Linked DNA regions of Homo sapiens: region 1 is linked to region 2. Evidence: fine-mapped expression QTL. A gene starts in region 2. The other region holds a variant in brackets. All regions are shown on one strand. Distances are between the middles of the regions.

Region 1 (4,492 bases), 56 kb after region 2:
CCTTCCTTCCTGTCCCCGGCTACTTGGGAGTCAGCTTCTTCCCTCTCCCAACTCATCTCCCTCTTCTCTCCTGGCTTCTAGAGAAGATCCAGAACTTGCGTGCAGCTTCTCCTCTCAGCACACTTTGGGCTGGGATGGCAGTGGGGCATAATGGAGCCCTGGGCGATCGCTGAATTTCTTCCCTCTGCTTCCTGGACACAGAGGAGGTCTAACGACCAGAGTATTGCCCTGCCACCACTATCTCTAGTCTCCCTAGCTTGGTGCCTTCTCCTGCAGGAGTCAGAGCAGCCACATTGCTTGCCTTCATACCCTGGAGGTGGGGAAGTTATCCCTCTTCCGGTGCTTTCCCATCCTGGGCCACTGTATCCAGGACATCACTCCCATGCCAGCCCTCCCTGGCAGCCCATGTTCTCCTCTTTTCTCACCCCCTGACTTTCCCTGAGAAGAATCATCTCTGCCAGGTCAACTGGAGTCCCTGGTGACTCCATTCTGAGGTGTCACAAGCAATGAAGCTATGCAAACAATAGGAGGGTGTGACAGGGGAACCGTAGACTTTATATATGTAATTACTGTTATTATAATACTATTGTTATATTAAATGTATTTACTCACACTTTGCCTCTAAGGAGCTAGAGTAGTCCTCTGGATTAAGGTGATAAATAACTTGAGCACTTTCCCTCAACCAGCCCTTAACTAGAACACAGAAAATAAAACCAAGACTGGAAGGTCCCCTCTACCCCTCCCAGGCCCAGAGCTAGCTGACTGTGTATGAGCCTGGGAGAATGTGTCTCCTCCACAGTGGCTCCCAGAGGTTCCACACACTCTCTGAAGCTCCTTCTCCCACACTGCACCTACTCCTTGAGGCTGAACTGGTCACAGACAAACTGGGATCCAGCACAGTCCAGCAGTTCTCAAAATGAGGTCCTCAGGCCACAGTGCGTGAGAACTTGCTTGGCTGTTTGTTAAATGCTAATTCTTGGGCCCCATCAGAGCTACTGCATCGAAACCTGGGGGTAAAACCCAATATTCTGCATTTCTTATCAAACTCTTTGGGTGATAACTAAGTGTCTGAAGAGGTGACTATTTCCTGACAGAAGGACCCAAAGAGGGAAGCAGGACATAGGTAGGCAGACAGACACAGGGCCCTGTGCCTCAAGACACCTGTTTATTGGGGACACGACTCTGCAATAGGGATGACAGGAATCGTACCAAAAATAGCGACGTCTACAGGGCCCCTGATGGGGCTAGAAGGGTACAGTGCCCCCCACCCTCACCCCTTGTACAAAAATAAACTCTCACGCCTATGGACCAGCAAAGACTGGCAGAGTGGCTCCTCAACAGGGACACAAACCTTCTCTGCCAGCCCAGGGACCCCGTTCTTTGACCCTCACCTCTGCCACTTCTAAGGCACTGTGACTCCCTTGGGCTGGGTGGGTACCGCCAGCCCACCCTCCTACGCCCGCCGCGCCTTCCACCTCTGGTCCGCCTGGGGCTGGGATATGGGTCCCACGCTGCCCCCTGCTGGCTTCTCTACCCAACTACCTCTAGCGCTCCCCCGCTCCGGCGGGGTAAGCTCACTAAGCTAATCGCCCCTGAGGGCCCACTACCGTTCTTGCCCCCCCAGCCCTGCCTCTCCGGGTCTGGACAGCCCGGAGCCCTCCTCCCCTTCCTGCGAAGGACTGGGAGGGGTCTCTCCTGATGGTACTCGGGCATAGGGCGGGGACGCGTCAGCCTGGGGTGGCCGGCGGCCCCTAGCCCGGCGGCTGTGGTGCACTTGAAGGTGCAAGGCCATGAGCTCTGGGGCTCCAGTGGCGAACGGGCAGAAGAGGCAGCGGTGGAGGGCACCCCCAGGCCCGGCCTCGCCTCCCGGCCCTGCCCGCAAGGACAGGTCCAGGGGTTCGGCCTCACCGCCTCGCCCGTTGCGCAGGGTCCTCCCAGGGCTGGCGGGCTTCCGACGGGACCCCGGCCCAGCACCGCTAGAAGGAGGCCGGGGACTTGAGGCGCCCTCCACCCAGGTCGCAGGCTGCGGAGACGGCTTGGCTCCAGATTGCGGGGCCGAACCCCGCTGGGAAGGAGGCGGTGGCTCCGGGGGTGGCCCGGGGCCGGCCCCGCTCCTCTGCTCCCGGTGGTGGCGCTGTAGGTGATACTTGAGCGAGCCGGACTGGGTGCCCGCGTAGTCGCAGTGCGGACACTTGTAGGGCCGCTCGCCTGGGGAGAGT[G/A]GGTGCGATAGGGTCACGGGGTCACGATGACTGCACGCACCCACCCGAATTTCGCCCAATTTACAGACCTCATTCTCAGAACCAAGAAAGGGCACTGCGTCTCCCACCCACTTTGATTTAATAAAGGAGCGTTTCCCAAGTGATCTCATCCAGCCAAACTGAAGGCTTCGGAACAAACTTCACCTCCTAGTGTTTCGGTAGCCCTCACCTTTCTGCCCGCCCCCAGTCCCCTCTCCACGCCGGAGGCTGCCTCCCTCACCTGTGTGCACTCGCAGATGCACTTTGAGGTGATGTGCTGAGCGGAAAGATTTTCCGCAGAAAGGACAATCCTTGCCGGTGGCGCCCCGGCCCCCTTCAGGCCGGGTCCCTCCAACCAACAGCCCATTCTCTTCTGCAACACATACGTTAAGAGGAAGTCAGGGGGGCCCACACCCTGTCCAGGTGCCGCGCACCCACCCCACACCCATCCCATAGGGCTGCTTCCCCTCGGGGTCCAGGAGGAAACAAAGTCTGAGGGGTTAGATTTGTTGTGACTAAAGAGTTAAGTGTTCTCAAATGATGGCAAAGCCTCCAGGAAAACAAAACAAAACAAAACAAAAAAACTCAGGAGAAATTAAACGTAAGTTCTTTTAACAAGGAAGCTACGAGGGAGTGGCGGCGTAAGAGTCAGAGGAGGACGCGGCGTACCCGGAGAGCGGAGGGTACCTACATACCCTGCGTGGCGGTCGATCTTGCCTGGGCCCCAGCAGCAGAGGCAGAGTGCCCCGGTCCCTCACCCGGGCGCGGGTGCAGGGAAGCCAGAGAGCCCAGCGACCTGCCCCGGGCCCAGGTTTCCTCCTCGGCCTCCACCACCTCCTCTTCTTCCTCAGGCTCCTCCGCACGGTGCCGGCGAGCCCGGGCCGGGAGAGCAGAGGACAGCGGGCGGAAGCCTCCGAAGCTGCGGCCGGGACCGGGCTCAGCACCCTCGCCGTTGGGCCGGCCCTCGCCAGCTCGCAGGCTCAGGTAGCCCAAGAGGCTCGGGGGCTCACGGCGCTCGGCCGGGGTGGGAGCCGGGGCCAAGAGGAGCGCTGGGCCCAACGGCTCATAGGCCAGCAGGCCGAGGTCAGGAGGCTGGGGGGCGCGGGCAGGCCCGGAGGCAGGCCCCGGGGCACGCAGTGGGCCCAGCTTGCTGGCGTGCACCTTCATGTGGTTCTTAAGGAACCAGGGCTCCTTGAAGCAGCGGCCGCACACCGGACACGCATGATCGAAGGAGGCCTTGTGCTTACGCATGTGGCCCTTGAGAAACCAAGACTGTGTAAAGCTCTGGCCGCACACTTGGCAGCGGAACTCCGGAGGCGCTGGGGGCTCCTCGGGAGCGGCAGGAGCTGGGGTCGGGGTTGCCTCACGTTCGGGCTCCGGCTCCGGCTCCGGCTGGGGGACTGATCTGGGTTCGGGCTGGGGTGGAGGCTGAGGCTGAGGCTGAGGCGGAGGCGCAGCGGAGGTGGCCGCCAGGGGACGCTCGGGAGCCCCGTGGGCCGTCAGGCTGTGGTGCAGCAGCTCCTCCTCCTGGCTGGAGCCGAAACTGCACAGGCCGCACTTCCAGGGCCTATGCAGGATGTGCAGGTGGCGTTCGCGCTCCGCCGAGGTGCGAAACTTGCCTTTGCAGTAGGGGCAACGGAAGGCGGACGATGAAGGAGCCTGGGGCCGCGCCAGACCCTCAGTGGCAGGGGTGGCCTGCATGCCCCCTGAGCTTCGGGCTCTCCCCAGTCGGGCCTCGCGTAGTAGCGCGCGCTCTTCCAACTCCAGCAACAGGCGTGCAGCAGGACTACGTGGGCGCTCGGGCTGGTGTGTGCGCAGGTGCGAGCGCAGCAGAGCCCGCTGCGCCGCGCGGTGGCCGCAGTGAGGGCACTGGAAGGCCTGGGCTCCTGGGTGCGCCCGCAGGTGCAAAGCAAGGATAGAGTTGAAGCGGAAGCGCTTCCCGCATACAGGGCAGGGGAAGCGCCGTTCGCCTGCACGACTCTCAGACCAGCTCACCGCTCCCATCCCGAGCGACCCTGCGCTCACGGCTGGCCCGTTGGAGTATCGCTGCAGATCCAGCTCGCCGTCGAAAGCCGGCGGCGACGGCGCTAAGTGGCCGCTCGGGGCGCGGGGACGTGAGCCCTGTGGAGAAAGATCTGCGTAGAGCAAAGGGTGAAGGTAGAGCTGTAAAGGAAGCAAGGGCGTCGCCTCGAGGGCCAGAAGGACAACACGAGGGAAGGTGGGCTGGGGCCTGAACTAGGAACACAGGGTGCTAC
Region 2 (4,210 bases):
GATTAGAGCCGGGCCTGCCTCATTCGCTGCCTGGTCAGGGGCAGACTCTGGAGTCTGGGGGATTTGGGAGGAGCTTCTGGAAGAGAAGGGAAGCAGGAACCTCTGGGGAATGGGTGAGAGAAGATACCTTGAAATGCCAGTGAGCCAAGGTAAGAAGACTGGAAGAAAAAGAGGTTGGAAAAAGGAAGGCAGGGTGACTACGGTTGTTGGGAGTGTGGGGGAGACAGTCCTAGGCTCCATGGTAAGAGGAAGCAGGAGAGGACAGTTATATGAAGGGAGAAACCATGATTTCACAGAGAGAAGCAGGCTGGAAACTGGGGGTTGTGGGGAAGTGAGGCTAACATGAGTCTGAGGGCCTCAGGGAGGTTCCTATAGCTAGCCATATCCCCTGAGTAGGTGGGTGAGTGGAGGGAATTATAAGGGAACTGGGGGAGGCTGACATGAGAAGGCTGGTGGGGATGGGGAGGTGAGACTCGGAGCTGGTGCCTGTTGCCATGGTGTGAGCTGAGGCCCTGGGCCTCCATCCAGGACTTAGGATCTGGCCCAGTGGGTGGACAGTCACTGCCAACTGGACACAGTCAACTTCTTGGGTGGGTTTTACTGTCTCTGGGAGAGGAAGGATGATGAGGAGGTGGGGGCGAAGAGGGGGTAAACAAGCTGGAAAGAACCTAGAAGATAGCACCACTTTGCATGGTGATCAAAGCCCTGGACATTTTCGCACCCACCTGGTCTCTTGGGAGGGGACCCTGCCTGCCTCGTAAGTCAGGAAGGAAGTCTTGTTACAGGGATCAGAGTGTTGGAAATGGAGACAGCTGGCCTGTGGTGGTAGAGGTTGGGGAGTGGCTCAGGAATTAAATTCCCGAATAGAGACCAGCGATACCTATTGGATCAGCTTCATACTTGCGGGAGCAGAGTAGGTAGAGCTTCTGGTTGGTTAGGGTGCTATTGTAGTAGCAGCTAGTGGGTGGCTGTTGGTGGCTCAGGGAGCAGACCGTGATGGGGAGGGAATCCTGGGTGAGTGTGCAGTATTCATTGTAATTCTCACAGAAGCTGTCACTATACTTGCAGAACTTCTGGATGGCCTTCCAAGGGGCATGTATCACATAATGGATCTTTGGGCAATCTGAATTTTGCATCTTGCCTCGCATATAGGACATCAGACCATTACAATAGCCCCGGAAACCCTTTGGGTAGTTAACCCTGGGATAGTCAATGCTTAAGGTATAGAAGTTCCTGCTGCCAATCTGCATCTTGATGTCCATGACCAGAGTTGGCCCCAGAACAAGCTGGAGGAAAAGGAGCCGGGTCACAGCTGGTGCCATTCCTCCTGCTGGTAGAGTTAAGGTGGTTGGGGGCAGCAGTGGGCCTGAAGTGGCTGTCTGCCACATCCCAGAGCCTCCAGCATTCCCAACCCAACAGTACTTTAGAGATCATCTCACCCATAACCAAGTTCTCATGACCCAGAAAGAGGAGATGCTTGCCCAAGGCCACCCAGACAACCAGCCACCTTCAGCCAGCCCTGCTCCCCTGGTCCACCACAGAATCTCAGCCTCTGCAGAGTCCGTGAGCTACATTTGCAGAATAAGAGCTCTAACTGGTCCTTGGGTGAGAGACTCTTCCCAAGAGTCCTTGGGCCCCTGGCACTCCTGCTAGTAAAAAATGCAGAGAAGAAAGAAGGAGCAGGCTGACCTGACAATTCTCTGGCAGCTGGGAGGAAGGACAGGAGCTGAAGATAGCTGGGTAGGGACGTGTATTCTTCTTGCCAAGGCCAAGACAGTCAAGAGATGAGGAGAGGCTAGAAAGGTTTCTAGGTAAAAATCAGTCTGGGAGGAGGGAATGTCCCCGAGTTTGATGAGCCCCTGTGCTAAGAGGGTTGGATGGGTGGGAGGAAAGAGGCATTACTATCTGGTCTCCTCCTCTACAGTGTCATTGGAACACTTACTTCCAATCTCCTTGCCAAAAGTTCCTAAGTGCCTGGGCTTTCTTTGATGTTTTCTCTGTTCCATAGCCTGTGCTCTCGTGGCAAGGTGAGTAGGAAAGCACTGTTATGTTTCTGAGGAACAAAGTGCTTCTTATTCCTGACCCTCAGAGAACAGAGCATTCGCCACTTTGTCATCCCACTCACGGGAGCCCAGGAGGGCATGTACTCAGGGGCCTCCCACCAAAGTGCTGGGCTGAGAATCAAAGACCTCCATGTGGACTCCCCACGGTCCCTATCAGCCTTACTCCTGTCACACCCACAGCCTTCACCTGTGACCTCAGGCCCTGTCAGAGTTTGAGCACTACTGGAAATCTCTGCATGCTGACTCTGAAGCCTCAAACTTGGCAGTTTGGATTTGAAAGCATAACCTGAACATGAAAAGCTGTGGATGCCAGAGCCTGGCATGATCCGTTTCGTACTGTTGGTTGATCTCTGAGTGGTTTGCCATGCTGGGGAAAGGGCCACGCTCCTATCTTTTTCATCAACATCTTCCCTTTCATCAGAATCAAAGAGCCAGCTCCCTGGAAACTGCTAGCTCTTGCCCTTGACTTCCACAGGTCACTCAGCCTTGTTAGTCTGCAAGGTGTCTTCCAGATTTGGGGCCTCCTCTTAGGAGAGCCTTTTTACCTTTGCTGGGCAGCAGAAAAGGGGAGTCAGAACACAGAAAGCTGAGTGCTCCAACACCCTCAGTATAGCTCAGGAGGAGGGAGTAAGGCCGCAGAGAGAAAGATTGGTGTTCCTCATGTAGAGCCCCCTAAACTGGCACTTTCTGACAGCACAAACCACAGTCCAAAATGGAATCCATCCTCCCCATAACTTGTTTCTCTTCCTGTTTTGTCAACTCAGTTTCCCTGGTTACCTATGCAAGAAACCTGAAAGTGATCCTAGACCCCTCCACCTCCCCAATCCCAGCTACGGGGAGGCGGTCCTGCATGGTGGTTAAGATCAAGGCTTTTGAGTGAAACAGACCAGGAATTGAATCCTGCCTCTGCAGCTTACAAACTGCACACCATCTATCTGTTTACGAAACCACTGAAAGCTTCCTTGTTTCATCTGTTCATGAGGATAGTATTTTTTACCTCACGGCAGTATGAGGATCCATTAAGATGTATATCAAGAGTTTTTAGACCAGTGCCCGGCACATGGTGAGTCCTCAGTATGAGCCTGAGTCCATCAGTCACACAGCCCTGACAATCTTAAACTTTTCCCAAGCCCATCTCTTCCATTCTTATTTCTTCCTCAGTGGATGCTCTCGTCTCGCCTGGACAGCACACACACTCCAACTCCAGTAAGACTCAACTCAAATATATCTCTTATACAACTTCAAGAGAAAAAGTGTGATCCCTTCTTTCGTCTAAAAGTCTGCAATAGCTTGTTTCTCATAGGGTAGGGGTGCCCAGTCTTTTGGCTTCCCTGGGCCACATTGGAAGAAGAATTGTCTTGGGCCGCACATAAAATACACTATCACTAACGATAGCTGATGAGCTTAAAACATGCAAAAAAATTCATAATGTTTTAAGAAAGTTTACGAATTTGTGTTGGGCTGCATTCAAAGCCATCCTGGGCCACATGTGACCCGCGGGCCATGGGTTGGACAAGCTTGTCGTAGGGTATAGTCCAAACTACATCTCACAGGACATAAGACTTCCCATGATCTTGCACCTGCCCATGTGTACAACTGCATCTGCATCCCTGCCTGCTTCCCACCTTGTCCCCCACCTCCTCTATGCCCTATCTGCTGCTGTCTCCTCTACCTGGAACCCTGCTGCTGCACCGTTCCTCGCCCCCATCTATTCCATGGTGCTAGCTCATAGAAAGACTCAACCCAGAGGTCCCACTTAGAAAGCCTCTGCTGGGAAGACCTCGCCAAGGAAGTGGGCACCGTCAAGCAAGTGAGGATAGAGCCCACATGGGCAGGTGGCTCATCTGTATTCTTCAGGCTGCTCAACAAGACAACACTGAGCGGGTGCCAATGCAGGGTGTCGCCTGAGCCTGGCTGACTCAGGCCTTTGCTTTGAGGAAGCCAACCACATTGTGGTCCCTGCCTTGAATCATGCCACCTCTTCCCTGGTCCCTCAAGGCTGCAGCTTCCCTGAGAATAGAAAGGGACTTTTTATACCTTTTGTTCTTCCTCTTCCTTCATTCCCCAGCCACCCATCACCGCTCTTCGCTCCCCCCACCCAACACCACTCACTTCTGCCGCACAATTACAGAAACTGAACAGCACAT

Alleles and levels. Alleles are on the strand shown, and positions count from the first base shown. SD is a standard deviation of normalised expression in the study named.
In carriers of allele A in region 1, the expression in thyroid of the gene that starts at base 1,841 in region 2 tends to be lower than with G alone (moderate effect, 0.45 SD a copy in GTEx).

The links.
Region 1: its variant is fine-mapped to the expression of RNASE13 in thyroid (GTEx, PIP above 0.99).

Annotation. Positions count from the first base shown.
Region 1 is chr14:21,088,933-21,093,424 of GRCh38, forward strand. It overlaps ARHGEF40 (Rho guanine nucleotide exchange factor 40), which reads left to right. Exons shown (of 24, transcript NM_018071.5): 24 at 82-1,316. ZNF219 (zinc finger protein 219) reads right to left here. Exons shown (of 5, transcript NM_016423.3): 3 at 2,933-4,358; 4 at 2,479-2,610; 5 at 1,145-2,208. The coding sequence ends at 1,604. Among named protein-coding and RNA genes, the nearest start is that of ZNF219, 7.5 kb to the right of the region's middle. RefSeq lists enhancers at 1,347-2,192, 2,193-3,037 and silencers at 3,642-3,851, 3,998-4,292. The variant G/A (reference allele first, on the strand shown) is at 2,220.
Region 2 is chr14:21,032,967-21,037,176 of GRCh38, forward strand. It overlaps RNASE13 (ribonuclease A family member 13 (inactive)), which reads right to left and starts at 1,841. Exons shown (of 2, transcript NM_001012264.4): 1 at 1,690-1,841; 2 at 1-1,330. The coding sequence starts at 1,322. The coding sequence ends at 852. It also overlaps a transcript of NDRG2 not described here and a transcript of TPPP2 not described here.